Regions from separate parts of the Homo sapiens genome. Here regions 2, 3, 4, 5 and 6 are each reported to be linked to region 1. The links are microRNA targets in miRTarBase. Many come from high-throughput screens and were not tested one by one. Region 1 holds a microRNA gene; each other region holds the end of a gene's coding sequence.

The links. The annotated mature microRNA hsa-miR-4762-3p reads CUUCUGAUCAAGAUUUGUGGUG and lies in region 1 at 3,601-3,622, shown strand. An mRNA with a match to its seed (bases 2 to 7 or 8) in the 3' UTR can be bound and repressed. Matches are read on the target gene's strand: a 7mer-m8 pairs with bases 2 to 8, a 7mer-A1 pairs with bases 2 to 7 and ends in A, and an 8mer does both.
Region 2: the mRNA of STAC is a reported target of hsa-miR-4762-3p. Seed matches in the 3' UTR shown: 8mer at 2,295-2,302, 7mer-A1 at 2,922-2,928 and 8mer at 3,529-3,536.
Region 3: miRTarBase lists IKZF4 as a target of hsa-miR-4762-3p. Seed matches in the 3' UTR shown: 7mer-m8 at 1,552-1,558.
Region 4: the mRNA of GLUD1 is a reported target of hsa-miR-4762-3p. Seed matches in the 3' UTR shown: 7mer-A1 at 3,108-3,114.
Region 5: miRTarBase lists OSBPL3 as a target of hsa-miR-4762-3p. Seed matches in the 3' UTR shown: 7mer-A1 at 3,141-3,147 and 7mer-m8 at 3,988-3,994.
Region 6: miRTarBase lists C8A as a target of hsa-miR-4762-3p. The part of its 3' UTR that is shown has no 7-base or 8-base seed match.

What each region holds. Positions count from the first base shown.
Region 1 is chr22:45,756,972-45,762,552 of GRCh38, forward strand. It overlaps MIR4762 (microRNA 4762), which reads left to right and starts at 3,553; the gene lies at 3,553-3,627. All of the region lies in intron 9 of ATXN10 (ataxin 10), which reads left to right. RefSeq lists an enhancer at 696-1,694.
Region 2 is chr3:36,544,472-36,550,052 of GRCh38, forward strand. It overlaps STAC (SH3 and cysteine rich domain), which reads left to right. Exons shown (of 11, transcript NM_003149.3): 11 at 1,720-3,536. The coding sequence ends at 1,818. Among named protein-coding and RNA genes, the nearest start is that of STAC, 170 kb to the left of the region's middle.
Region 3 is chr12:56,034,867-56,039,644 of GRCh38, reverse strand. It overlaps IKZF4 (IKAROS family zinc finger 4), which reads right to left. Exons shown (of 8, transcript NM_022465.4): 8 at 1,210-4,778. The coding sequence ends at 4,314. Among named protein-coding and RNA genes, the nearest start is that of RPS26, 4.7 kb to the left of the region's middle.
Region 4 is chr10:87,048,093-87,053,673 of GRCh38, reverse strand. It overlaps GLUD1 (glutamate dehydrogenase 1), which reads left to right. Exons shown (of 13, transcript NM_005271.5): 12 at 270-332; 13 at 1,804-3,472. The coding sequence ends at 1,923. Among named protein-coding and RNA genes, the nearest start is that of FAM25A, 31 kb to the right of the region's middle.
Region 5 is chr7:24,795,159-24,800,739 of GRCh38, reverse strand. OSBPL3 (oxysterol binding protein like 3) reads left to right here. Exons shown (of 23, transcript NM_015550.4): 23 at 461-4,200. The coding sequence ends at 557. It also overlaps a transcript of GSDME not described here. Among named protein-coding and RNA genes, the nearest start is that of GSDME, 40 kb to the right of the region's middle. RefSeq lists enhancers at 4,987-5,492, 5,493-5,581.
Region 6 is chr1:56,917,422-56,920,421 of GRCh38, forward strand. C8A (complement C8 alpha chain) reads left to right here. Exons shown (of 11, transcript NM_000562.3): 11 at 144-802. The coding sequence ends at 295. Among named protein-coding and RNA genes, the nearest start is that of C8B, 47 kb to the right of the region's middle.

The DNA.
Region 1 (5,581 bases):
CATCAGCACGTGGAAACTGAGGAAGAGGGAAGGAGTGGAGAAGAACCAGACGAGAGACACGGTTCCAGATGCTTTCCCAAGTGGCTGTGCCCTCCTCCTATTTGCGGAGGAATGGCTTTGGTCTGCACCTGCAGCTCTGGACGGACTGCCTGGGGCTGGGGCTGTGGAGGCGGACGACTGGGGAGTCTGATGGGGAGGTGGGTGGCGGGGGTGTTGACAGGAAAAATCCGACTGGCGGCCTTGGAGCAGTTCGAAGAGAGGGCGTGTCCTTTGCCTGTTGGAATTCCAACCCTGGCGACTTTCAGCTACACCCTCCTCCCTCCCCTAGCCCCACACAAAACAAAAATGCCTCAGAGCTTCAGTGTAACTGGAGCAATACCAGCTGATTCTAACAGTGTGGCCCAGCAGCGCCTGCTGGCTGGGAGCAGGGACAGAAAATGCCTGAGGCTCCGAGGTGGGAGCCCAGGCTGGGATTCAGGATTTCGCTGCTCCCCGTTCAAGGCCTCTGGAGAATGTTCCAAAGGGAGGTGTGGATGTTTCATTCAGTACTTTGGAGGGAGAAAGAAATGGGTTCTTTCTCTGTATTCTCTAAGATAGATTTGTTCTTAATCTTGAAAAATCATTTCTAGCCATTTTAGAAAAAAAAAAACATTAGTACAGTATTAGTAAATATGGATGGGATAAAATTTTTTTTACATACACATAGGATTCAATACATTTTTCATATGCTGACCTTATAAGTCATATTGTTTTGAAATTATATTTATTAAAAATGTGATTAGAGTTATATTCATTCATGTTTGATTCTCTTTTAAGAATTATTCTCTATTAGTACTTTTCTTACATGATTCAACTTGGACTTATTAGAGAAATAAACTCTGGCACACTTTCTCCAGTCATATTCGTTGAGCCTGTATTTATAAAATTGGCATTTATTGGACCTCTGCTGTGGATACTATTTACTTCTTTTGAAATTTGTAAAAGAAGAAAAAAAGTTGAGCTTTTGTGATGACACACAAATTCAAACTAAATTTGATGCTTCCAAAGTATATGGCAGAGACGGATGCAACTATTCGTTACCAGAACAGTGGCGTCAGGAAGCCCCGTGCAGTGGGTAGGGGACACCTGGTGCTGCCTCCACACCCTGCCCCTGCCAGCCCCTGTTGTCCTGAGCTTCCGCAGCTCCCGCCTGACGTTTGGCTCAGAGTCGTCCACACTGCTCGTGTCCCTCGGCTGTGGAGCAGGGCCACAGTCTCCCTGCAGGGTTGTTTGGAGTTAGCTGAGCCAGCGTGTGGAAAGCATAGGTACTTGACAGACCACCAGTGCCTCCATGGAGCACCACCATTGTTAACTGCAGGCTTCTCTAGCCATTTAGAATACATATGAAGACTCAGAAAAACCAGTTTTACTTTTAGGAAATTACATATTCATGGCTTGAGCTATAGCCACTGACTTTGTGCTTGGAACAAAATACATAATTCTTTTTGGTTCAAAAGATTAGATTCAAATTATTGGTCATCAGAAACTGAAGTTTCCTAAGGCATATCACACGTAATTCAAGGTTGCTTTGATGTGTTATTCTGCTAATCCACAACCATGGAAGTTCCTGGTTAGTGCAATGTTTCATGCTCTGACAGCTATCTTTAAGATGTTGTTTTTGGGTTGCCAGGTGTTCATTTAAACACACTGGCCATGTGTTTGCACACGCACATGTGCATACACATAGCCACTGCGGAGCGCCAGGAGCTGTAACTGAACGTGGACTTGATAGAGCAGTATGCGATGTTTTTGTCTTCAGGGCAAGCTCTTGATGCATAGCTTCATGTGACATCTCGTTTATAACAGCCTGAGGCATCAGTAATCTTTATAGCAAGAATTCTAGTGCTGTGTTATGCATACCAAGCTTACCGTTTATTCTGCCCAGTAAATACATGGCTTTTATGGAGTCATAAATCATGACAGTAGGAGTCATACCTCTCCAAAAAAGAAGAGATTTAAATCTTTAGAGTTAACAAGATTTAATGTAATTTAGACATTATTCTTACTTAGAAGTACCATTCTTATTTAAAGGCAGTATATCTCATATCTTTAAAGATAACTTTAGAAACTTACTGCCAGAGAAACAAATATTGATTAAGAGCACACTGTGTGCCAAGCATTATGCGAGGTGCTGGAGAGAAGGAAGGGGAAGAAAAGGTCCTCACCCTCAAGTAACTTGAAGCTTAGAGGGACAATGATAAATAGTAAAAGATTCTAGAGTCCGGGCATGGTGGTTCACACCTGTAATCCCAACACTTTGGGAGGCTGAGGTGGGCGGATCACCTGAGGTCAGGAGTTCAAGACCAGCCTGGCTAACATGGTGAAACCCTGTCTCTACTAAAAATACAAAAAGTAGCCGGGCGTGGTGGCGCATGCCTGTAATCCCAGCTACTCGGGAGGCTGAGGCGGGAGAATCACCTGAACTCGGGAGGCAGAGGTTGCAGTGAGCCGAGATAGCATCACTGCACTCCAGCCTGGGCAGAGCAAGACTCCGTGTCAAACAAACAAACAAAAAAGATTCTAGAGCAGTCTGATCAGGGTGAGGGTTCCGTACTCTTCTTGTGCCATGAAGCAGGAGGAAAGGCCTCCTGAGGGAGCTGAGGCTGCACGAGGATGAGCAAGGTTTCATAATGTCCTCCAGAGGCCAGTTTACCAAGCTGCATCAGCTCCTCCCTCCCAGCCACCCTGCCCTTCATAAAGCTCTAGTTTTGTAGGGGATGGGGTGGGATGGGGTCACACCTCAGCTGCCGGCATGAGCTAAGGGACCATATAACAGTCAGCACTGTCCATCGCTTGCTTCTCTCTCTTTCTAATTTACATACAGCTAAACACAGATTTTTAATGAATGGCTGATAAGTTTTGACAGATGTCTGCACCTGTGTAATTATCACCCCAGTCAAGGTACAGAGAGCACCTCTATCCCCTCAGAAAGTTTTTTCCATGCTGGCTGTTGTGTGCCAGTGTGCCAGGAGAGCATGGGGCAGGGGAATGATGGCCCTAAGAAAGGAAGGAGGAACAGGGGGAATCTTGAATTACATTCTTTCCCCACGTGGAGATAGATTTGTGCTAATTCCACAACGTGGAACATCCTCCTTCGTTTGCTTAGACTTCCCTGGGAGCAGTAGCCCATGTACTGGTGGCCTAGCTCAACTGTGGCTTGGTTCTGGGCCTGTAAAGCCATCTTTCCCACCTACAGATGACATTCCCTATCTTCATCATGTGCTTTTAGTCAGGTTTCCTGCGGGCCAGATGCATCTGAGAGTGTGCCCTCATTAATATGGGACTCTGTGTATGTCCAGCACATGTGGGGTTTATTCACGTACCAGTGATTATTATTCAACATCGTTCCCTTTAGTGCAGCAAGCACTTTCTGAGTGCTTACCATGTGCCACTTTCTGTGAACCTCTGCAGTTCAACAGTGGAGTCAGAGGCAGTCCTTGTTCTCAAGTAGCTCATGATCTACTGTGGGAGACAGATGGCTAGATGATAGGGTGTAGTCATATCCCATTATTTCTGATACCCCAAATCTTGATCAGAAGCCTTGATCAGAAGCTAGGAAGGCTTCTGATCAAGATTTGTGGTGTCAAGAATAACAACGATTACAGCAATAGTAGTTGCTTATTGAGTGTGTCCTGTGTCCTAGGCACAGTTCTGAGTATTCGTCTCTTACCTCATTTAATGATGATACCTCTCCCATGTTGCAGATGAGGAGACTGAGGGCCAGAATGGTTCAGTAGTGTACCCAAGGCCACACAGCTGTTAAGTGGCATGAGAAAGAAAGAAACTTTCATTTTAAGCCTCTTAGATTTTTGTGGATTGTTTGTTACTGCAGCACGAACCAGCCCATCCTCACTGATAAGAGCCCCAGTGTGCGGAGTGGATTCCTGAGCCAGTTAAAAGGTTGCTACAGCAGTGGAGGCCTGGTTGGAGGGTGGTGATAAGCCTGGAAATAAAAGGACATATGTGAGAGACAGTAATTTGATAAAGAGTAATGAAAGAGGAAGCTTTCTTTCAGGTAGCTTATTCTGTTTCATTATTGTTGTTTTCCTTTTGGGAAAGAAGTTGAATTTTCATTGTTGGCTTATGTTTTCAAGGGTGACCTCAGTATTTTATTTTATTTTATTTTTTTGAGACGGAGTCTTGCTCTGTCGCCAGGTTGGAATGCAGTGGCGTGATTTCGGCTCACTGCAACCTCCACCTCCCAGGTTCAGGCGATTCCCCAGCCTCAGCCTCCCAAGTAGCTGGGACTTTAATGTTTTTATATTGGTGATTTTGAGCAGAGACTGTATTACCATCTAAAACACTACAAGCCTAGCATGTAAGCTCCATGTCTGTTTGCTCCTCATTCTCTCCAGGGCCCCTGGCACAGTTCCGGGCCCACAGTGAGTGCTCTGTAAACTTTTAGGGATGAACAAATGAATATTTTTAAATCTGTTCATTGTTTTCACAGTTAAACTTTTCTAAGCACTTATGTAATACTGTGTTTACTTAATTTTCATTTCTCACCAACCTTTATGGAAGACTAGGTGATAACTGGTTAAATTGTAATACAGTATCATAGGTATAATCTCGAAAAGGTAAAAATCAAATGTAACGAAGCATTATAATCCAGTGACTGGAACATTTTATGCAAGCCTTTGCTCTTTATTTATCTATTTTTTTATCATACACTTCTTCCCAGTTTTTGCTTAGTCCTTGTTAGCAGTTACATTAAAATCTGTTTTAAGTTCCACCTCAGGGAATATCAAAAGTTGGTTACTTTTCTAAATGGGCCTTTAATTAAAATTTTAAAAAATTAGACCATTGTGTTAGATTTTTTAAAATGTTGGCTAAAACAGAAAAGGTTGATTTCAGTGCAGTTGGGCTGAAACTATACTTAAATAGATTAAAGTATAATCTGGCTTTTAAAAAAAACACATCTGACTGGGATGAAGTAGTTGTGGTCTTAACTGAAGCAGGTGAATGGACCATATTCGCCTTTAAGAGCCTTCTGACTCCCAGGTTTTCTGATTTTTAAAAACTTCCTATTTAGTCATATGTTTTTACTTCACTTTATGGTTTAAGTGAGCCAACCAACAAAAGTTACTCATAAAAGATAGTATTTTACTTGTAACAATTGCAGAAAAAGTGAAAAGCTTGACATTACAGGTAGAAAGGAAGTCAGTCTCTGTCCCCTGTGCGTTTCCGAGACTGTGTTTCTATTTATTTGCCCTTTGTCTGTTTCCCCTGACCAGCGTGCGTTTCTTTCTGGAGGCGCAGGGACCTCGGCTTATTTTTCTCTGTCTTTGCATTGCTTGACAGAGGGCCTGACCCAGGGTAGGCACTCCCGCTTCATGACTACATCTCATTTTTTATTTATCTTTGTTATGATAGATAGCAGATAAAGCAGTTGATTTCAGTCAGAAGCAGACCACAGCAGCAGGATTCTTTCCACGGTGCATGTTCTGGCTGAGTGTTGGTGGGCTCCACCCTAGCCGAACCTGTGTCTGCACACCTGTTGTGTCTTCCTGGGAGGCTCCCAGGCATGCTCCTGTCTGGCCAG
Region 2 (5,581 bases), not on the chromosome of region 1:
GTGTCTGCATTTATTTATTTATTTATTTGTTTATTTATTTATTTTGTGGAGGTACAAGTTTTCATTCTGATTAGACCCTATTATTCTGAGGGCAAAAACTATGTTTTGTGCTCCCTTTGTATCACCTAGGTCATCTGGTACTATGTTGGGCATGTATTTATTTATTTATTTTATACTCTAAGTTCTGGGATGCGCTTGCAGAACGTGCACGTTTGTTAACAAACATATGAAAAAAGTTGTAGGTCTCAGCTTTTGAAAATCAAGTATTCCATCCCTTTTGAAGTCATGTCAAGGGACCTAACATGACCCATCAGCTACTTCTCTCACAAGTGACCCACATCTGCTCTTCATGAAACAGTCAACACATCCACTACTCTTACAAATTATCTTCTCTTCACTTCACTGTCTGAGCCTCTATCTAGTCAAGTTTCTCACACAGTAGATCTCTGAAGCACGAGTCAGATACCAGTCCATTGTATGTCCCAAGCTCCAGGAGTCACAAATCAAGCTCTTTGAGTGTCCTATTCAAGCCCCTTCTTCTACATGATGGAAGAGCCCACTGTGGTGGCTTCTGTTGGAGCCTTGCTCAGATCCCTTTCACCAGGTGGGTGCACTCATCTCCCAGTTGCTATGTTGGCCACGAACAACTCACAGCTGCCCTTCTCAGGGAGGGCCTTATGAGACAGCAGGACCCTCTCTCCTGGAAGGTTATGCCCATCACACTACAGGCCAGCCAATGGCCAATGACTGACTGACATGGGGTTCAAAAGTCTGAAACCCTAGCTTCAAAGTGAGACAATTCTGTGATGCAATTCATGCTCCAGAGCTCCCAGGCGAACCAAGCTAGACTGCTTTCCAGCTGAAAACCTCTCATTGCTGGGCTCCTTCCCCTGCCCCATCCTGCATCCCTCACTTCCCACCTCCTGAGAGCACCCACTCAATAAGTCACTTGTACAAGGAACCCTGTGTCAGGTTCTGTTTCTGGGGAATCCAACCTAAGACAAGGCCTGTCATCCATGGAAGCAGGTGAGGCAAGAGAAACTCACAACACAACAATAGTTCTGTTCATAAACCTCTTCTAATTTTCATCTGCCCACATCCACCCTTCTATGCCCTTCAGTGGCCAATGAGTGGTGAGTGGCAAGAGTATCCAAATGAATGTTTACCAACCCCTTTTTAAAGTCTAGCATAGGTGGCCTTACTTTAGAATATGGGAAATGTTAGCATCTATTTGCTTGAGGCCAGGAGTGAAATAGTTCCCTTTGACTTCCTGATGTTATATGAGGTGCATATAAAATTCTGAGCACATGACAGGAGTCTGCTGAATGATAGCTATTATTTTGGTCCTTTAAAATAATGTCCTGAGAATTCATTGCATGCCACATGCTAGGCTCCTTGACAAACATTATTATCTCATTCTGTCCTCACAGTGACTCTTCAGAGGGTCACAGTACTATTAATCCTCATTTTATTGATCCTCATTCATAAAGCTAAATTTCAGAAAACATTCAATGCCTGGGCCTCATTCCAAACCTAGGTTTTTGCCTAATTTTTTATCAAACCTTTTTCTCACTGTGCTGGTTTCCCACCCTAAAACTGCTCTCCCTTTTCCAGTTTGTTGCTCCTGCAACCTCAGTCAGCAGGGATTCAAGCTGCAGGTTCTAACTTCGTTCTTGCTGACAGTAAAGTATTTTGTTTTTTTTCTTCCTTGGCATTCAGATCTGCGTGAGTTCTGAAGAAGAACAAGATGGTTTTATCAGAGTCCTCAGTGGAAAAAAGAAAGGCCTCATCCCCCTTGATGTACTAGAAAACATCTGATTGCTGGCTCCTCCTCCGTTTGCAGTAGGCAAGCTCTGCTGCGATGCCTCTGCCTCATCTCACACTGCGTCAACCCAAAGGAGCTGCCGCACTGACCCAGCCCCCCAGGAAACAGTGAGACAAGAATCAAGTATCTGAGACTGTGGAGTAATAGCCACAAAACAGAGGGCCCACTGCACAGCATATCCAGGCTGCCACAGGTGGGGACGAGGCTGAGAGAGTCAGCAGGCAGAGCCAGATGCCATGCTTGGCAGCAGCAGTAGGACTATAAACCACAGCTGTCCCCCAGGATCCCACTCCTTTCCTGTCTGTGTGGTGTAAGTTAACACACTGGAGTGTGCTCCAGTTTGCAGGGTAGCCCAGTGCAAGGTTCAGATCCATGTAGCTAAGTATTATCCTGCTTCCAGACCTATGTCACCAGTACCAATCAGTCAGTGTCATCACATTTCAGGCCCCAAGCAATCTCTGTGCAAAGCATCAGAAAGACCTGCTTCCCAGCCCCCAGCATTCCAGTGCTCTCCAGGCTTCCTCTCTTTGTGATTGTGCTGTCCAGAGTGTCCAGCTTGTTCTTTCTTTCTCTTCAGTCCTCTGAGTACATCTGGTGGTGTGCATTAGATGTGAGGGCTATGTTGACATGGCATCACCTCCAAAGACCTGACCTGCCTAAAGACTGATGACAGGCCATCCTTCCTGCTGTTCTAGGTACTGGCCTGGGTGACAGAGCAGGACATGAGACATAGATACAGTGGGGAGGAGAAGTGGGGAAAGGTGGAGCAGAGAGTTCTTACTTATTGAAGATTATACAGCCCTTTCGGTTATGAAGTCCCTGCTTGAAGGCAATGGACCTGGGGAAGAGACTATCACAAAAAGTCTCCATTTTCATTTTACATCCTCTCTATTGGAGGCAGCACTTTTCCCTCATGCTGTCCTATAGGACTCCACTTTGAAGGTTGTGCCTACGTTGCAGGGAACTAGGAACATGGAGGGGAACCAACAACAGCATCTTAGAAGAAATGTAGCCAAATTGGAGTCCATTCTTCTTTAGGGCAGTATATGAAATCCTAGCAGATGTAAAATGGAAAAGAATCCTAATGCTTCTTCCTTCAGAAAGTAGAGGAACTAGGGGCCCAATTAGCATCATCTAGGGGAATCTCTATTACTCTGTACTTATACTAATGTTTACAAGAATGCAATATACTGTGATGCCTTCCTACTCAAGCCTCCTAGCATTCAAACTTCCATCCTATTAGTCATTAACATGGTTAAACTTCAATTCACAATCACCTTGGAATCAATGTCAGTTTGATTTATTTTGTTACAGAGCAATAAAATCATTAGAACAATGGTTTTTAAAAGACTTAAGTGGATGCATCCTATGCATGTAAGCATTATTTCCCAAACCAAAGCATCATTCATCTCCATTTATTTCTTTTGTTCCCGCTCAGTGTGAAGTTGGGAACTGAGAGGGGATGGCTGCTGGTTTCACAGAAGTTTGGATGCCTTACTCTTATCTTAAAGCCAGCATCCAGAATTTCCTCCCTCTCTGATGCCACATGCAAAACCAGGTGTACGATGTCAAGATGGATTCTTTGAGAGCCAGGGTAGATCATATGACTGCCTTTCTGTAAAATTGGATGCCTAGTACAAATGCTCTTTGCCTCTAATTCAGTATTCCATTTAATAAAAACAATACAGTGGCTGGAAAGGAGCATCAGAAACATGTGTCCTGATCTCTTCTTTCTGTCATGATATCCATTAACTTTTTGGTACAATGATGTCACATCATATGCATGTTTAATTAAGATGAATCTTAAAAATGAGTTTGCCTTTTACAGTTGAATAGAAGGAAGATGTGGTATCTAGCCTCCAAGGTAGTCTCCCAAAGATCCCTACCTCCTCATATTCTTTCCTTTGTGTAGTCCCTTCCCACACTGAATCAGGGCTGGTCTTATGTGACCAATAGAACACAGCAGAAGTAGTACTACAAGGCTGTCTTAGTCTATTTTCTGTTTCTATAACAGAATATCTGAGACTGGTTAATTTATAAAGAAAAGAGATTTATTTTGCTGACAATTCTAGAGGCTAGGAAGTCCAAGAAGCATAGCGCTGGCATTTATTTGGCTTCTGGTGGTGGCCATGTGCTGTATCATAACACGGCAGAGAAGCAGAATAGAAAGTAGGCATGTGCAAAGAAATAGAGAGAGACCAAACACAAGGAGCAGCCTTGATTTTTAACAACTCACTCTTGAAGTAACAAACCCAGTCCCAAGAGAGCAAGAACTCACTCACACCCGTGGGATAGCATTATCTATTCATTATGGATTCTCCCCATGACCCAAACACCTCCCATTCAGCCCACCTCCCAATATAGCCACAATGGCAATCAAATTTCAACATGAGTTTCAGAGGGGACAAACTATATTCAAAACATAGTAATGACCCCATCTCAAATTGCATCTGAGGTTAAGTTTTAAAAGCAGCTTTAGCCTTGATCTCTTGGAACACTCACTGTTGGAACCTTGAGATACCATAAGAATTTCAACTACCCTGAGGCCACCATGCAGGAAAGACCCTGTGGAAAGACTACATATTTCATCATCTGAGGTGGCAGACATCACAGAGCAGAGATGAGTCGTCCCTGCTGAGCCCTGCCCAAGTTACAGATTTATGAGCAAGATAACTATGTGGGGATTTTTTAAGTCACTATGTTTTGGAGTGATTTGTTATACAGAAACAGATAACAGAAGCAGGGGTTTTGTAATTTAAGTCAATGTTAGAAGAGAAAAATGCTCTTTCTACACAATCAGGCCCAAAAGCGTTGCAAACATCAAGTGTTAGCAGGCAATTATCCCTCTAAATACAAGATATGTAGTATTCCCTAAAGATCTGGAGTCATCCAGACCTAAGGGAAAAAGCAAGATGTTCCTCATAGTATAGATTTCCATGAGTGCTTACACAAACACAGAGATTTTAGGAGCCACAGCTTTTTTTTTCTTGCCTGTCTGCAGAAATTAAAAGCACAAGGATAGCTACGGCCTACCAAAGTCTTAAAGGTTTGCAAGACTCAGAAAATGGCTAAAAGAAGGACCATAATTTTTGAGTGGAGAAGAGATGAAGATCTCAGGAGATACTCTGGTGAGGAGACAGGGAAGGAGGGGAAGTGTCCATATGAAGAATAAAAAGGGGACCTGAGGGATATGCTTTGTAGTGTACGAAAACAGCCTTGTACCCCCTTACCTCTGCCCCTGCCTATAGCCAAGGGATGGTACATACCTAGCTGCACCAGGGAAGATATGCCCTATACTTCATCACTAGTGCCATAAGACTTTACTTCTATTATAGTAAATTTGAAATGAAGAACTGAGTGAACCTTCCTCAGGGCTCCAGAAGGTGGAGAATAGAACTCCCTTTACTTCCCATCACTAGCAGACATCTACAGCACCTCTCACATGGGCAGCAGGGTGGCAAAGAGAGCCCATGTGTAGATATCCAGATTGCTAGATTTCACAGACAGATACCCACATGGCTAGATTTCACAGATGGTTGATTTCACAGACCACTTTTCCTTCCCAAATACACAACAAACACCACCACCACCACGACCACCCATACACACACACTAATTCACTCCCATTAAGAGGAAGGGTCCAGCATTTGGGTTGCATATTTAGAGCAGGTAGTGGAGAGAATATGGCAGGATCTATTAGAGTTAGTGTTCTTTGCTATTAAAGAGAGAAAAAACCAGTGGGAAGATCACAACACC
Region 3 (4,778 bases), not on the chromosome of region 1:
CACGTACCACCATGCCCGGCTAATTTTTTGTATTTTAGTAGAGACGGAGTTTCACCATGTTGGCCACATGGTCTTGATCTCCTGACCTCGTGATCCGCCTGCCTCAGCCTCCCAGAGTGCCAGGATTACAGGCATGAGCCACTGTGCCCAGCGCTTTTTTTTCTTTTTTAAGATGGGTCTGGAGGCTGCAGTGGCATGATCACAGTTCAGTGCAGGCTTGACCTCCTGGGCTCAAGTGATCCTGCCGTCTCAGCTTTCCGAGTAGCTGGGACTACAGGCATGCACCACCATGCCTAGCTAATTTTAAAATTTCTTGTAGAGATGGTGTTGCCCTGTGTTGCTGAGGCTGTTCTCAAACTCCTAGGCTCAAGTGATCCTCCCAAGTAGCTGGGAGGACAGGTGTCCTCCACCACTTCCAGCTTTCCTGTCTGTTTTGACTTTGAATTTGCCAGTTTCAGTGGGACATGGAAAATAATAGACTCTAGATAGGAGTGTCTCTAATTTTCACTTCACTGTAATCTTGTGGAAAACAGAAGGCAGACATTACTATATGGAATAGCAATGAGGTAGATGGAAGAGAACATAAAAAAGTTCAGAGTGAAGAGAACAGAAAATAGTTACTATTTAAGACAGAAACAAATTTATGTTCCTACTTTGGATTTTTCTAGCTTAGGGGTTTCACTGGCTGCATTCCCTGGCATAAAGCGATGAGCACATGCTTTGGATCACACACCCCTGGGTTCAAATTCTGGTTCTGTCACTTACTGGCTGATGAGCCTTGGATAAGGTATTTATTCTCTCTTGGGCTTTTATTTTTTTACCAATAATTGTGATCATCCTTTTGTAGGTGTTTCTACAATTCAATGAGTACTTAGCATTTATGAGATGCTCAAGCAGTGGTAGACCCTATGATTGTCATCATTCGCATTATTTCACCCTGGGCATAGAATGTGTTTTGTGCACAGTAGGTACTCAACAAATGTTTGATTAATTTCTACTTTGGGTAGACAGGCAAGTCAGACTTTCTCTCCTATCCTGAAGGCACTCCTTCCTGGTAGGAAAATCTCCTCCATTTCCCAGTCTAGGCTGAAAATTCTTCGTTTTTGTTTACCTCCTAAACTGTTCAGTAGTTGGTATAACATACTGCAAGGAGGACCCCTCCCTCTTAGTAGAAAAGCAAGGCAAAGGAAGTCTGCAAAAACAACCAGAGGTGTTAAATTACTCATGTTTATTTATAACAGACTTTCAGCCAGTACAGTACAAAACTTACAGTAGTATATCTCCGTTACACAAATATTTACTTACAATATATTACATATACAAAATGCTTTGCAATAAGTCTCAAAAGCTAGTTTAACTCCCCTTGAGAAAGGAGAAAAACTCTTTAAAAAAGGGGGGGAGGGGAATCAGAAGAAGAGAGGAGGAGGTGAAGGGGTAAAGGTCAAAAGAGACACCAAACATAGGCTACAAAGGAAACCCTAGGAGAGAGGGAGAAGAGAGGTGGTATTGCACTTGCTTCTGTGTTTATTTTTTCTTTTTGTTCTTCATAACTTCTGATTAAAAATATATATATATATGTATATATATATATTATGTACACAAGGAAAGAAGCTGCCAGAAGTATTACAAAATCCTATCTGCAGCTTGGACACTGACACAAAAAAACAAAGGTCTGGAAAAGTGTCTACTTAGAAATATTTTGTTGGTGGTATTGATTTTGAATAGCAATATAAAAGGAAACACCTCTTTTCTCCATGTGGGTTTCAGTGTGTGTGTATTTTTTTTTCTTTTTCTTTACTTTTTTTTTTATGCAAAAGGAGCTGGGAGAGAGCATGAGGATGTTTGAGGTTCCAGAGCTGGAAGGCTCTGAAAAGTAGGATTTTGTACCTAAGACCCTGGTTAAAGTGCAGTGATGGTCTGGAGAGAGACAGGATGCCCCCTCTCCCCTCCTTAGCACCTGGTCTTGCCCTTCCAGTCTCTGCTCTCATGGGCACAGAGTATAGCCTCAGAGCATAGTCCTTCATGTTCCGGGAGGTTACAGGTGCCACAGTTGACTGGGGAAGGGGATGGGGGCACCCTAAGGCTCTGATACCCCAGAAGGGACTAGTCCTTATGAAGTGTCACCAAATACACAGCAGACACAGAAGAGGTGGGAGGCGGTAGGTCTAACAGGAAGGGCTCAATAACCAGAATAGTTCAGGAAAAGCCCAGATATTAATCTCAGCTCTGCTGACATTCTAAAAAGGAGCTAGCACCCCAGGGTGCCGTTGAGGATTCTTCCTTTCTCTAGAGACTACTCTGCTCTGAGCTAACCTCCCCATTTTCTGCCCTTGGCAGCATCTATTTATTGCTACATTGTCAAGGAGGAACAATTGCCCCACAATGCTTCTCCCTGCCAATCTGGTTCTCTTGGGGAAACCTCAGAGTGGGGGAGAAAAAGGAGGACAAAGAGGAGAAAGTTTTTTAGGGTCTCCCTTCCCATAAGAAGGCAAGGTAGACTCCTCTCAGAGCCCTTAAGGCCCTAATCCCAGGGTCTGTTCCTTAGCCCACCCTTTACCATCCCCCCCCAAAATATCCCTGATAGGGAGTGAGAAAAGTAGGAGGTAAAAGAGCCAATAAGGAAAGGACATGTGGAAAGAAAGATGGAAGGGGAAGGAAGGGAAGAGAAAAGGAGAGAGAGAAGGACCAAGAGTTACAACTTGTGAGGTGTTGTGTTTGGTTTTTACTTTTTTTTTTCTTTAAACATAGAAAAACAGCCTTTGGTTTGAATCTCAAGGAAGCAGAGAGTGGGATGGCTGTGGCCTTGGGCAGAAAACTCTTGTAGAAAGAAACCTCCACTTGCAGTGGAGTTGTATCTCCTTCTGCCCCTTCTCACTAATCCTAGGTTACTCAAATAGCCAAGGGTCTCTGCAGTAGCCAGCAGTCCCCCCTCCTACCCTGTGTCTGGGAGCTGAGTGTAGAAGGGGGTAGTAAAGGAAGACCCCAGTTCAGTTGTACCCATCCCAGTCTTGCTGGAACAAGGGTGGAATGGGGTGAAGGGCACGTGCCCGTGCTCATGCTGGGATAATTTTTGGTTATACTGAAAATTAGAAGAGAGAAAAGAGATACCCGTTTCTCCCTGCCACTGATCCTAAGAACAGGGCCCAGGAGCCCGGGAATGAGAGGGTGAATCCTGCTGGGAGGGAGCAGCAGAAGGCAGCATGACTGAGGGGCTGAAACAACCCCTTGTCATCAGGCAGCAACCCACTAGTTTCTCATAGGATGGGGACTGAAGGAGCCCCTGAGAGCCTAGGAAGGTCACTATAGTGAAGAAGTTTGAGAGGTGGAGGAGAAAGAGAAGAATTTTGACCCACTCCTTTCCCATGCCCTGGTTCCCAATTAGGCACCTGTGGCTCCCAATCTGTCAGAGACAGAGGGTTGCAGACCTAGCCTTGGCCCCTGAGAATATAAAATTGGGGCACTCCAAGGAGAGAAAAGCCACCACTTAATAGACCGGTAGGTTGAAGGGACTAGAGCGTGTGGAGGGGTAGTTCAAGGAGAGGGACCAGATCTATCACATCCTAGAGGGAGATCCTGAATGTAGGCTTTGAGAACTCATATTACTAGGGGAATATGACCTATTACTAGGGGAATAGGACTCTCAGTCCCACAGTGCCTGGGGAGAATTTCTTCAGTCCCTCCTACTTCCAAATGAGGAAATAATTCTTCATTCATTCAAGAATAGTGCAAGCTGCCTAAAGTGAGAGGGCACAAGAGGTATGGAGTACCAGGTTGAAGAGTCCCAGAGAGGAGATATAATGCCACAGAGCTAAGGTAGGGCCGGGGGCAGGTATCAGCATCAAAACTGAAGAATTAGATAATGTAAAGGGTGAGGACTTAAAGCAAGAAGCTTGAAGTCTCTTAGTACTAAGAGGAGCTTCCTACCCCTGGGGCTGCTGGAAGATCTAAGAGAGAAAAATTGGCCTAAAGTGGAAAGGAGTTGTGGACAGGAGGGTGGGGGAGTGGCAAGTGACTGATATAAGTTAAAATTTAAAAAGGCAAAAATAAATCAACTAATTAATAAATAACTCAGTATGCTGGGATGAGAGAAGATAAAAAGGAAAAACATAAGCAAAAGATCTGTTTCATCACAATGCTTACATCGGTCAGGATAGAGGAAGAGAATAGGTGAGGAGGGGTCAGGGTCAGGTGTGAGGTCAGGTGGCCAGTAGTGAGGGCTACAAAGCAAAACTCCTTGGGAAATGGTGGGGACAGGGATCAATGCCTGTAGTCAGGGCAGTGGAGTGGTGGACTGAGGAGAGAGGGAGAGGTTGCTAGCCCACCTTATGCTCCCCCCGGACAATGTGGGAAGAGAATTCGTACCGGTCCTGGCTGTGATAACCACAGATGTTGCACTCAAAAGGGTCTCTGAAGCCATGGCAGCCCATGTGGATAGTGAACATGACGTGGTCCAGGAAGAGGATACGGCAGTGCTCACACTTGAAGGCCTTCACAGGCTCACCACTCTCGCCCACCACCCGAAGCACTTCCTTGGAGGGGCCTGGGGTGCCCCGCAATAACCCCTCCTGTGGCTTGGGGTCCTCTTTGGCGTAGGCAGGACTGTGCCGGCCCACCACAATGGTGGGAGGTGGCTGGGGTGGGGGACCCTGAGGGAGGGATACCACCCCCGCAACCCGATCTTCGTGGTTGCTTTCTGTGTCTGTGGAGTCCTGGCAGCCATTGCTGGGGGATGCCCCAGGGTCAGTCAGGGGGCCTCGGGGCCGGTAGAGGAGGGGACC
Region 4 (5,581 bases), not on the chromosome of region 1:
AACTGTCTTCATTGTTGTACTATAATCTTATTTCATGAGTATTTGTTTGCTGTCAAATATAATAAAAATAAATTGTGATCAACAAGCAACTGCTTCAGTAAGTATCAAGATACTGTATCTTTGATACTGTGCAGAAATGACATATCTTAGCTAAAAGACAAAAAATTCTGTCTGGTTGTATATTGACTTGAGAATCCTTTGTCATCTTATACAGGGACACAAAGCAGGTCTTTGTGGTTTTGTTAAACTTGTGTTCTTTTCCCTAATAGGGTGCATCTGAGAAAGACATCGTGCACTCTGGCTTGGCATACACAATGGAGCGTTCTGCCAGGGTATGTGTGCAGATGCTGTTTGCCTTCCAGCTAGTCACATGAAGTGCAACTCAACCATGCTATCTCAGCCGCCAGACTGTATGTGCTGATAGAAAACATCAATCTGTTCAATGGTCCTCATTTGTGTGTAGCAAAACACATGTTTTTTCAGTCTCAGATGATAAGCAATTTTTTAGAGTCTTCAAATATGTTTTTGAGGCTTTGGAAAGAAATAATAAGGCTGATTTAGGAGGTAATGATGTTGGCAGCTAGCCCAGTATGGAGTAGTTAGCCAAACTGGATTGTAGCTCCATGTGCCACTATGTTATAGCTACGGGAGTCTACCTTACTATAGAATTTGGTATAAGCAAAACTTATTTTGACTGCTTGATCCCTACTTTAAGGCCTCAACCACAGTTTGAGTCCAGTTTTCCTAATTTCTTCTTGGGTTCAGATTCTATCTGCTTGGATTTATGATGAAATAGCATAAGCAGATATTGGTGAAGAAGGTGGTGCTTCTTAGGGCTGTTGTTTTTCTTGTTAATTTTTGATCGAGATAGGGTGTATGTGGTATAAATTCATCCTTTCAAAGTATTAAATTCGGCATCCTTTATTATATATTTGAGCCATCACCACTTTATAATTCTAGAACATTTTCATCACTCCCTTTTTTTTTTTTTTTTTTTTTTTTTTGAGACGGAGTTTTGCCCTGTTGCCCAGGCTAGAGTGCAGTGGCGCACTTTCAGCTCACTGTAACCTCCACCTCCCAAGTTCAAGCAATTCTTGTCCCTTAGCCTCCCGAGTAGCTGGGATTACAGGCATGAGCCACCATGCCCAACTAATTTTTGATTTTGTTTTCATTTTGTTTAGTTTTTTGAGATGGAGTTTCGCTCTGTCACCCAGCTGGAGTGCAATGGTGCAATCTCTGCTCACTGCAACCACCGCCTCCTGGCTTCAAGCAATTCTCCTTCCTCAGTCTCCCGAGTAGCCGGGATTACAGGCGCCCACCCCCACACCCGGTTAATTTTTTGTATTTTTAATAGAGATGGGGTTTCACCATATTGGTCAGGCTGGTCTCGAACTCCTGACCTCAAGTGATCCACCTGCCTCAGCCTCCCAAAGTGCTGGGATTACAGGTGTGAGCAACCGCACCCCTGCCTAATTTTTGTATTTTTAGTAGAGACAGGGTTTTACCATGTTGGCAAGTCCGGTCTTGAACTCCTGAGCTCAAGTGATCTGCCTACGTCGGCCTCCCAAAGTGCTGGGATTACAGGCGTGAGCCACCGCACCCAGCCACCCCATTGTTAAGTCCAGAGAATTAGGCCCTCCTGCCTAGAGGTTCTGCTGCTAGAGTAGTTTGTCTTTGGCTGCCCAAGTCCTGCCTTGAAACAATGAGAGGGTAACTTGGACCAGGCCTGTCTGGGCCTTGTGTGTTTATGGCCTGGCCACTTGAGTCAGGATCATCTTCACTGCATTTTCTCTTTCATTTCAGCAAATTATGCGCACAGCCATGAAGTATAACCTGGGATTGGACCTGAGAACAGCTGCCTATGTTAATGCCATTGAGAAAGTCTTCAAAGTGTACAATGAAGCTGGTGTGACCTTCACATAGATGGATCATGGCTGACTTCCTCACTATCCTCTTCACATGTAACTTCTGCAGACCTATCACAAGTTTACATGTAACCACAGAAATCCCTTTCTCTCCTGACTCATTAATAATGGATACCATTCTCAACAAGTCAATCCAAGTCAGCCCGTTAAGGAGAAAGAAATTAAGGTTAGCGGATCATGTACAAGCTGAGTGTGAAAGTAGAAATCACCTACACCAGAGAGCCATTTTGGTATTTTGCCTTTAAATAAAAAGCCTCCTTTATCTGGCTGTGCAGCCTTGCTCTGTGGCTTTTCCCAACACAATCAGTGCTAGTGCTGGGGAGGAACAGTCAAGAGCAGTCAGTTGCTTGCTTATTTTTTCTGGATGAGTCTGGGACACACTGTAACTTTAACACATTTAAGAAGTAGGTGTGTGGCCTTTTCAGAAGGTGGCATGGTCCTCAAGTGAGTTCTTAGTATTTTATATCAGCAAAATAATTCAATTTTGCAGGTTGCAAACAAATATAAAACCTGTTTCTGTTTATGAATATTATTCTTTTAGAATAGAATAAGTACATGCTGCTGTAATAAAATTGCCTTTAATCACTTAACAAGCCTAACCTTGACTCAAACAGTGAATGCCTATAGAAATAATAAATGAAAAAAACTAGTATTTTTATATCATAAAACAATGTCATTTATAGCTTATCATTCATGTATTGTCCAGCAGACATTAAAAGCCCTGTGGATAATTAAGTTATCTTCATACCTGCAAAATGGTGGAGGCTATTTTCATTAAAACTGTCAGAATTTGCTTACTATAATTATGATACAGTCCAAAGAATGCAGTCACTTTTTATCATGTTAACTAATTGTTCTCTTTTGAAGATCTATGGTTGACTAATTAAACAATAATTCAAGTAGAGTGTCCCAGAAAAAAACCACTTGGGCTCCCTGTTTGGAGTCTGGCTGGCTCTGAGCATTGCCAATGGCCCCTACTCACCTGACTTTGTATCCTCTCCTTTTAGAGGCTTTGCATTCTGCACCCAGCTTCACTAACAGTGGGCTGAAAACATCCTTGGGTTGAGTGTTTCATTTGGGAGTTATTTGGCCAGGGCCTTTTGAACAGTAGTGTCCCCATGAAGTGCTAGATAATATATGTGTAAGAGTCAGCTTTTTTTTTTTTTTTAACTCTAACACCCTTCAGAAATTTCTAACTACTTTGTAACTGCATGGCTTAACCTGGTGATAAAAGCAGTTATTAAAAGTCTACGTTTTCCAAAACTTACGTTTCTTTTCTGTGTTTTTACATGTGGTAGTTTCTCTTTTCATAAGTTATAATACTGCAATTGGATTTCTGAAATGTTTATAGCGACCACCTGTATAACATTTCCTTCCACTTTATTGTGAGCTGCCCAGATTTTATTCTTGAATTGTTTTTTTTTTTTTTGTTCGGTGCTTTACACGTTCAGAGAAACTTCCCGAGTAACGAACTATAGAAATGATCCCTGAAAGCATAGTCTTTATTCTCGAATTATTTTGTATTTTATTAAATAATATGAACAGCTGTTCTTGAGAAAGAGGCTCTAATGTTGAAAGCTGATAGTGAAGTAACTTTTAGTGCCGTTTTTCACTAAAGGGGATTTAATGTGGAATAATTTAGCCACAGAATGTAACAACTATTGAAGAGAGAATACTAACTGTAATCAGAACTGGATTCTAGACTTGATTCCACCAGTTACTTAACTGCCAGTGTGAAGCCTGGCTTTCATTTGGTCTTTGTCCGTATGTCACAGTTCTGCCTCTGCATGCTCCTGGCATAGGGTCAGTCAGATAAACAGGCCCCCAGTATATGGGCATAGTGAGCCCTTCCCCAGCATGGTGGTGTCTATCTGCACTCTAGGTGGGCTACTAAAATGTGTAAGGGGGAAAGTGATACAAAAACCAGTTCCAGAATGTTAGAATAATGGTGGGGCAGCAGATTTAAGTCATGTGAATGTGGGATAAGTCTTAGTGGTGGCCTTTGACTATATATTGGAAATACTGATTTTTTTTTGGTTGGGGGGTTGGTTTTTGTTTTTTGAGACAGTGTCTTGCTCTGTCACCCAGGCTGGAGTGCGGTGGTGCAATCACGGCTCACTGCATCCTCTACCTCCTGGGATCAAGCAGTTACTCTACCTCAGCCTCCTGAGTAGCTAGGACCACATGTATGGGTACGACACCTGGCTAATTGTTTTTATTTTTTTGTAGACACGAGGTCTCCCTATGTTGCCCAGGCTGGTCTCACACTCCTGGACTCAAGTGATCCTTCCACCTTGGCCTCCCAAAGTACTAGGATTACAGGCATGAGCCACCATGCCTGGCCAATGGTAATTTTTTAAAGATTAATGTTGAGGAGTATTGTTGATAGTAATATTAGAAAACTAAATTGCCTGTGCTAGCTATATAAAGATGAGAGCACTAGTGTCAGTAATTTTGGCTCCTGAAGGTTTTAGTTTTTAAAAATCTGGTCAATTACTCTTTTTACCTTGACAGAAATTTTCTTTTTTTTTTTTTTTTTTTTTTTTTTTTGAGACGGAGTCTCGCTCTGTCCCCAAGGCTGGAGTGCAGTAGCGTGATCTCGGCTCACTGTAACCCCCCGCCCCCTGGGTTCAAGCAATTCTGCTGCCTTAGCCTTCCTAGCAGCTGGGACTACAGATGCGTGCCAGCACGCCCAGCTAATTTTCTCGTATTTTGATTAGAGATGGAGTTTCACCATATTGGCCAGGCTGGTCTCAAACTCCTGACCTCATGATCCACCCACCTTGGCCTCCCAAAGTGCTGGGATTATAGGGGTGAGCCACTGTGCCTGACCTATTTTCAATTATTTTTAAAACTCACACACGATACTCAAGTTACTTGCTTCTGAAATAGCCATAGATGACTTATATAGCACCTGAAGAAGACTTAACTGGTGCTTTATGAGCCTCTACACCAGTGTATTCTAATATCCCTGATTAAGGAGATGAGAAGTAAAGGCATGAATTTTCAGTGCTTTTGGCACCCTAACTAGTAGGATTGGTCATTCCTTTTTTCTATATTTTTTCTCTTTTCCTTTTTTTTTTTTTTTTTACTCCATGACTAGCCAAAGAGCTGATTTACTTTTTTAAAAACGCTTGGCATGGCTGAGCACGGAGGCTCACGCCTGTAATCTCAGCACTTTGGGACGCCCAGGCAGGCGGATCACAAGGTCAGGAGATGGAGACCATCCTGGCTAACATGGTGAAATTCCATCTCTACTAAAAATACAAAAAAATTACCCGGGCGTGGTGGCGGGCGCCTGTAGTCCCAGCTACTTGGGAGGCTGAGGCAGGAGAATGGCGTGAACCCAGGAGGCGGAGCTTGCAGTGAGCCGAGATTGCGCCACTGCACTCCAGCCTGGGCCACAGAGTGAGACTGTCTCAAAAAAAAAGAAAAGCCTGGCATGTTAACTCACAAGCAAATAAATTCCATATTCACTAAACATCCCTGACAGGCTTTCCCAGCCCTGCTGTTTGTTAAGGTAGTCAAAGCATGGCACATGAAGAAAACTACATCTATGGATATTGTACAAAATATTGTTTTTATGATTTTTTAATATTTTTAACAGACTTTTATTGACTTGTGTTTGTATTTTTATCAAACATACTTCATTTATT
Region 5 (5,581 bases), not on the chromosome of region 1:
CATGCCTGTAATCCCAGCACTTTGGGAGTCCGAAGTGGGTGGATCACCTGAGGTCAGGAGTTCTAGACCAGCCTAGCCAACATGGTGAAACCCCGTCTCTACTAAAAATACAAAAATTAGTCGGGCATGGTTGCACATGGCTGTAGTCCCAGCTACTCGGGAGGCTGAGGCAGGAGAATCGATTGAACCTGGGAAGCAGAGGTTGCAGTGAGCCAAGATCATGCCACTACACTCCAGCCTGGATGACAGAGCGAGCCTCCATCTCAAAAAAAAAAAAAAAAAAAAAGTAACAAAATTATTTCTGGACATCTAATTCCCAGAATTCCCGGTCCCAACACTCTGGGACGCTGAATGCATGTGGGAATGAGGATGGGGAAAGCAGGGAGGTTAGGAAGGAAAGAGACTTGAGAATGTGACGCTGGTTTCAAGAGTCTGCAAGAAATTGTTTCTTCTTTCACAGGAAATCCGACGATGACTCTTGGGTGAGCAACGGCACCTATTTGGAACTTAGAAAAGATCTTGGTTTTTCCAAACTGGACCATCCTGTCTTATGGTGAAAAAGTAAAGAAGAAAGATAACATTAGTGTATTTCTCCTGTGCTTGCCTTCTGAAGTGGCACAAACCTGTGTTTATATATTTAAAAGATACTCTAGGATGATCACTTGTGCTTAGCTTAGCATTGTAACTCTTTAAGTCTATATTTTCCTCAGTGCGTTTCTTTACAATTTCAAATGTTACCCTGATTGTTTATATGAATGTAGAACACCTTGACATTTCTTTTTATATATAAACTATTTAATAAAAATGAAAGATTGAATGTTCATGTGTGGGTTAAAAAAAGAAGCTTTAACACTAATTTTCCAAAGGTTAGGGAAGATTCCAATTAAATTTATGCCTTATAAAATTATGTTGTAGAAAAAAAATCAACCTCTCCCAGGTGCATTAAGAAATAAGAATTCCCAGGGTTACTCACCCATGCGTAAGCTACCCAAGTTTAATTTGGTAGCTGAAATATCTTTTTGCCTCAGACAGCTCTTGAATTGCTCATACAGAACAATTCTGCTGGTGCTGGAGTCTGAAGAATATTTTCATTTGCATTTTAGTGGTTAGGGAGAGGATATAAGATTAATGGAATGTATATTTTTATATAAGACGTATACGGCACCTTCTTGAAAAGGAAGCATTTGAACTTGTTCCTCCCTATAGTTCTATTGCCTTATATGCAAAATTGTACCCTGTTGCTCAGAGAAATTATTCATAAGAGAAAAGAATTCCAATTAATTAAATATCACAATAGCATCCCAGAGAGACAGTAGGAAATTTCTCCTTAGTGAGAGCTGAGTCCTTGAGAAGTTAAGAGACTGTTTCCTGCTTCCCACCCCACCCCGTTTTTTGTCCCTCCGTTTGATCACCTCCCTGTTGAGTATGGAATGTCCCAGTTTAATATAAAACATACAGTTTATTCCACACAGCAGTTTGACTTTGTAAAAGTTTAGCAAAATAACTGATTGTTTTGGATAACTCAACATGTTTTTCTTAAATGCTGTTTTAGTATTTTCTACCTCTTAATAAGCACCATATTTTAGATCTTGTATAAAAAGTTGCCATCTGCCTTATAGACAAATGTAGAGAATTGATGTTCTTGCTTTGTGTTGTGTTCTGGTAAAGCTTTAAGTGAGTGTCTTACCCCTTTCCTATACTTTCTTGTTATCCATATCATTCTTTTGTGAGTTTTGCAGCAGTCTTGAATAATACAGATTATAACTACTGAAAGGGGAACCTTCGTCTTTTTAAATGTGTTATTTCACATTACAATAATATGTGTAGTAGTTGAATTGTGTTATCAAAGCATGTCCAACTTCTGTCCAGATGACATTAAAACCAAAGCCTAATTGTTAAGCCTCTTATTCTAAAGTCCATAGCAATGCTATGGAATATCAAGTATAATGATGTAGTAAAAAGATTTCTCCAGAAAACACTTTGAGATACTTAAAGAAATTCAGAGCATATCGAATGTTATGAATGAAGAGTAAAATAATTACAGGAAAAGAATGCATGATTTTTCATTGTCACACCAAATAACCAGTTGGACAATATTGCATTTTCAAAATGGAGAGTTATTTAAAGTGGATGTGTAGCCTTCTGGAATCTGCACGTGACTGGCATTTTAAAACAACTCATTAAATATTGGATTCATTTTATCGAGATGCCAAGATGAACACAATGTGAATATCATTTCCATTTCTAAGCAGTTGAATGACACAGTCAGATTCTTTGGTGTATGCTTTGTTCTTTCCATCTCAAGCATTTATCCAAATTCTGCTCACAGACATGAGGAAGCAGGCTGTAGATTTAAGGGCACTCAAGGGGAAAACAAATGTAGTTTCCACAGTGTGAGGATAAATGTAGAATCGTGGTAATATTGGCTGTTAAATTGGCCTGCTCCAGAGACTGGCTCAAAAAAGAAAGAAGCAACGAAAACAAAATGCACAGCCTGAATGGACGTAGCACTGTCATGTGGCATTTGGAAAATCTTTAATTATCCTAATGTTATTTCACTTGCCCTTATGCTTTATTTTAGAGTCCCAGGGACAACTGGATGAAACATTACGTCTGTAGTCATCTTATTTGAGATGGGGGTGGGAACGAATTAAAATATGATAGAGAACTATATGCAGATTTTAAAATCTAGTCAGTACTAGCATCTATAAAGGGCTTTTCTGAAATTTAAACAGCTTGGTGATGCATCCTGATATTATAAGCTTAAAACTATCTTGAGGGGGAAATGACTTCTTTTCTCCTTCTGTCCCTTTTCTCAAAAGCATCTTTCCCCCAAATGTATGTCTCTAGGACATTTTATAGTTTTAAGAGGAAGAAAACAGAAACGTGGCATCATTTGGGAAGAACCAAGGTAGAATTTAATTTTCTGGACTTTAAATCTCCTGGTTAAATAATGCTAATCACTGTACCATTTGAGTTACATGTTTTAACCTCTTTTTTTTTTCTAATTATTCCATCCAAAATTTCTGGTGAATTACACAGAAATTTTTGGAAATGGGACTTTGTGCAGGTAACCACCCTGCACTTCAGGTAATGTTCCTGTCACAGCTGTCGACTACCCCACGCTGCAGGAAATCCATTCAGAAATGAGCTAACAGTCTCCAGTGTAGCAGGAGAGCCAGTCACTTCCCTCCCCAGGCCCCAAAGCACCCCAAGGCTGGTATTCCTTGAGTCATAGGTATTAATAATAAAAGCCTCAATGCAGCTTCTCCATGTAGTTCCTCTCCTACAAGCCAGGTGGATTCTGGTCCTAACTAAAGAGATGGGAGTTCACCTGAGGGCAAGAAGTACCCAGGATGCCCAAACAGCCGCACAGGTGTCCTGTGCTTCCTGTGAGACTTCCTGGGGGAAATATACAAACTAATATATTTTTTAATGTTTACGTCATTTACACTGCTGCTTTTCTCATATTCTGCTTTTAATTACTTGTAGTAAATCATTTGTTTGGGCTTCAAGCACTGTCTTCCATCTGCATCTTCCAGATTTATCATGAGTGATCTTGTTCTACTGTTAAAGATGTCAAGCCTAAAAAGTAATAAAGTTTTTATTTGGCTGTTGAACCTTGATGTAGCCCCTACTACATACACTACAAGTTATGCCTTCTGGCTACTACAGAATCTCCGCAGACCTTTTAGTTATGAGTAGAAGCAATAAGAAGGTGTCCTTATGGTCTTAGGAATAATAGTTCCAATGTATTGGCATAATTTGTTTGAATGTCTTTATTTTGATATTAACACCGGCATAAATCTATTTTTGCTACCAGATGATAGCTATTTTCATTTGCTCTATTTTCCTCTGCATTGTACTAATCTGTTACTCAGTGTTAGTCTTCATTTTTCTGTGTTGGAAACCTGCGTCATGTAAATATCTGCAAATCATGACAGTCTAAAGTGCAAACCATTTTCAGAGACTTTGGGGAATGCAGTGATCAGAAGTGGCTAATTTATTTTATTTCTGATTATTTTATCCAGAGGGTACTTTTTTAATGGATATTTGTAAATCTTCCACTTAACCACTGAAAATTATTTTGTTTTAATCCCACCCTTCCATCCATACCTCTGCCTCCCCAAAAAGCTCCTATTAATTTGCTTATCCCCCTCATGTAGCTAGTTGAATGTGAATAAATAACATGGAAAAAAAGGCCACTTTTGTCTTTGTTTTTCCAGGTTAATGGGAAGGTTATTTGGCTGCTAAAAGGGAACAGAACAGGACCCATGCCTGAACTCTTTCAAGGAGGAACACACCAGGTTACTGGAAGTGATGGGGGTTGGAGATAAGAATACTCTGGGACACAAAACACTTGGAAACCATCGAGTCACCATACCTTTTCCCCTAACATTTCCAAGGCACGCCACAATTGTAGAACCCCCTCAGCCCTTGGAAGAGAGAACTGAGGCAACTGGAGCCCCAGACAGGACACCTCCAGCCCCAGGAGCCCCTCTGTCGATTCCAGTGTGCTATGAAAATATTACGGTTGATTCTTGAACAACACAGGGGCTAGGGGTGCCAATGCCCCATGCAGTTAAAATCCACACAGAATTTTTGACTCCCCCAGATCTTACCTACTAATAGCCCACTGTTGACCAGAAGCCTTCCCAACAACACAGATAATTAACACATCTGTTGTATCATATATGTAATATAGACTGTATTCTTATAATAAACCTAGAGAAAAGCAAATGTTACGAAGAAAAACATTAGGAAGAGAAAATACATATACTGTTATTAAGTGGAAGTGGGTCACAATAAAGGTCTTTGTCTTCATCGTCTTCACGTTAAGCAGGCTGAGGAGAAGGAAGAGGAGGGGTCGCTCTTGTTATTTCGGGGTGGCACAGGCAGGAGGAAATCTGAGTATAATTGAACCCACACAGCTCAAATCTGTGTTGTTCATAAGGGAGGAGACCACCCCTCGTATTGTCTTATGCCCAATTTCTGCCTCCAAAGGAAGAAGTAAAAACTAAAAGGCAGAAATGAAATCCACAGGCAGATAGCCGGGGGCATACCCTGGGCCTGGTAGTTAAAGATCAACCCCTGACCTAACTGCTTGTGTTATCTATAGATTCCAGACATTGTACGGGAAAGCATTGTGAAAATCCCTGTCCTGTTATGTTCCGTTCTGATACCGGTGCATGCAGCCCCCAGTCACGTACCCCTGCTTGCTCAATGGGTCACAACCCTCTCACGCAGACCCCCTTAGTTGTAAAGGGACAGGAATTGTTCACTCGGGGAGCTCGGTTTTGTAAGTCTGCCGATGCTCCTGGCAGAATAAAGCCCTTTCCTTCCTCAACTCGGTGTCTGAGGGGTTTTGTCTGCAGCTAGTCCTGCTACATTTCTTGGTTCCCTGACCTGGAAGCGAGGTGATTACCGGGCGGTGGAGGCAACTGCTTAGGAGGCTTAGGCCTGCCTTGTGGAACATCCCTGCGGGGGACTCCTGCCGGCTTTAGTGAATCCTGAGAGTGCTTTCAGCTGGGTAATTGCCCTGGTGGAACGCCTCGCCAGAGCAGCGCACGGTAGGCCCCCG
Region 6 (3,000 bases), not on the chromosome of region 1:
CCAACAAGCTGCAGTCGACCAGAGGAGGGGAGGCCAGTTCCTCTCCCAAGGGTGCCACACACCCCTCCCTGTTCATCACCAGACAGGCCCTTCCTTCTTAGCCATATGCTAACCTTCTCCTCCCTGGGAAATTTCCTCTGCAGGAGCCAAAGCAGATGGGAGCTGGAGTTGCTGGAGCTCCTGGTCTGTATGCAGAGCAGGCATCCAGGAAAGGAGAAGAGAGTGTGACAATCCAGCACCTCAGAATGGAGGGGCCTCGTGTCCAGGGCGGAAAGTACAGACGCAGGCTTGCTGAGGGCCTCTGGACACAGGCTGGACCAGATGCTGTGGATGTCGACCCCTGCACTGACTATTGGATAAAGACTTCTTTCAACTAAGAGAAGATGCAAATCAGCACACTTTTTTCTTTGTTCTGCCAGCTTCCAGGCCTAAGACTAGGTTTTGCTGTCTACAGCCAACTATTCTATTAGTTACAAAACTCAATCATTTTATTCAGCAACTGGATGTTGACTGTTAACTAGAAGCTCTGTCCTACTTACAGCACTTTGGATCATCAAAAAAATAAAGTAAAATAGAAAACTGAGAAAACTCAATCCATGACCAGGGAGAACTTACAGGATGTTAGAGACAAAACAAGCAGACACCTGAAACAATCAACGCCCAATAAAACAAAGTAGGATGAAAATTCTCTTAGTTCTTTGATAACAATTTGTTCACTCATAGAAACATTATTAATTGGTAGGGTAAGCAGACACTCTGAAACAATGAGAAAAATACTAAAAATTGACTTGAGTTATTTCAATTTGCCTTCATTTGAACTCGTTTATTAATTCAATTAATCTCTCTAGTTCCCTTAAGTTCTTACCACAAATGTGACATTTCTCCTGATTATTTTCTCATGGAACACTTCTTTTCCTACATTGCAATTTTCACAACTAGTAATTATATTATCTTAGTCTATTTGGGCTGCTATAACAAAAAGCCATAAACTAGGTGGCTTATCAACAACAGAAATTTATTTCTCACAGTTCTGGAGGCTGGGAAGTCCAATATCAAGGCAGATTCAGTGTCTGGTGAGGGCCCACTTCTTAGTTTTTACAGGACTGTCTTACTGCTGTGTCCTTACATGGCAGAAGGGGCTAGGCAGTCTCTTAGGTCCCTTCTTTAAGGGCACTAATCCCATTCATTAGGGCTCCATTCTCGTGACCTAGTCACTTCCCAAATTTCCCACCTCCTCATGCCATCACTTTGGGGTTAGAATTTCAACATATGAATTTTGAAGGGACACAAATGTTCAGATCATAGCATATATATTTAATCCCACATCTCCTGTGACTATGTAAGACCTATCTCTTCCTAAGAGATAATAATCTTGAGGGCAGAAGTCAGGCTTCTTTTGTTTAGCACTGTAGCCCCGGAGGTCAGGCTTGTGCCTTAAATGTAGCAGGGACTTAGTAAGTAGCTGTGATTAAATAAGTGAATGAATTGAAGAGTCAGTTCATAGATGAGGTACACATTGGTCAGCCTCCCAGAGTGGAGAGTGGATTTGAAGAGGCCAACTAGTGACGATCAATCCGCCTTCTCTGACCCATCTCTAGGGGAGGCCAATCACACCAGCCAGCCTCAGAATCCCACAGCCCTCCAGTCATGCCTCAAATAGAGAACATGTTAGGTAGCACTGAATTTTCTGTTTATCCATCAGTTTCCCCTATTAGATTTTGAGCTCCTTGAAGGCCAAATCTACAATCCTAGTGTATAGTAGGTACTCAAGAAATGTCTGGTGACTAACATATATATTGATGCTTCAAGTCATTCCAGAGTCCTCAATCTTGTTAAAGTCAGAATAAGAATTATGTACCTGAAACAACTAGAGGAGGTTTTAGGGAAATTAATTGTTGAGTTAATGCTAAAATATGTAGCACACAAAGTAAGTGCTGAAGGAGGCCAGGTGGGAGAGAGATTTACCTTTCCATTACTGTGTATATTGTGGATGGCATGGGGATTGCCCCAGGCCCTGAAGGACTTTTCAACTAGGCAAACTGGGAGGAGATCTCTCAGACAGAAATTCGGCATGAGACAAAGTCTGAAAGTGAGAAAGACATTTGGGGGTGCATGCAGGTGCGTATGTGTCAGGAAAGGGGAGTGAGGAAAATAATGCATGTAAATAAAATAAGGCATATAAAACACTTGGCACTATGCCTGTCATACAGGACATTATTACCCTCATGCTTATCGTCATCATTATTAAGACTATTATTAATTAAAGAATGTGATTTAGAAGTTAATTTCTGAACTCTTTAGATCTTCTACCTGAAAGAAGAAAAAAAACTCTCCTATTGCTTTTCATCCTGTCATTAATTTGCTTTTTACTTTTTAACTTACATTAATAATTAACCTACATTCATTATTTACTGAGTAGTGGCAGTTACATGCTAGAAAGTGACCAAGGGCCAAATATGCCAGGCCACGTGGGCACTTTAAAGAGAACGTTTGATCTTGACCTAAAAAAACAGTGGTTCTTAAACTTGGTTGTATGTTACAATCACCTGAGCAGTTTTCAAAACCCTGATGTCTACAGACTGCACCCGAAACAAATTAAATCTTAATCACTGGGTGTAGGGACCAGACATCCATAGTTTTTTGGGGTTTTTTTGTTTGTCTGTTTGTTTTGAGACAGAGTCTCCAGGCTGGAGTGCAATGACACAATCTTGGCTCACTGCAACCTCTGCCTTTGGGGTTCAAGTGATTCTCCTGACTCAGCCTCCTCAGTAGCTGGGACTATAGGTGCACGCCACCATGCCCAGCTAATTTTTGTATTTTTAGTAGAGATGAGGTTTCGCCATATTGGTCAGGCTAGTCTCGAACTCCTGACCTCAGGTGATCCACCCACCTCGGCCTCCCAAAGTGCTGGGATTACAGACTTGAGCCACTGCGCCCGGCCTGACATCCTTAGTTTTAAAAGTTCCTCAGGTGATTCCAAGTGCAGCCAAGGTTGAGGCT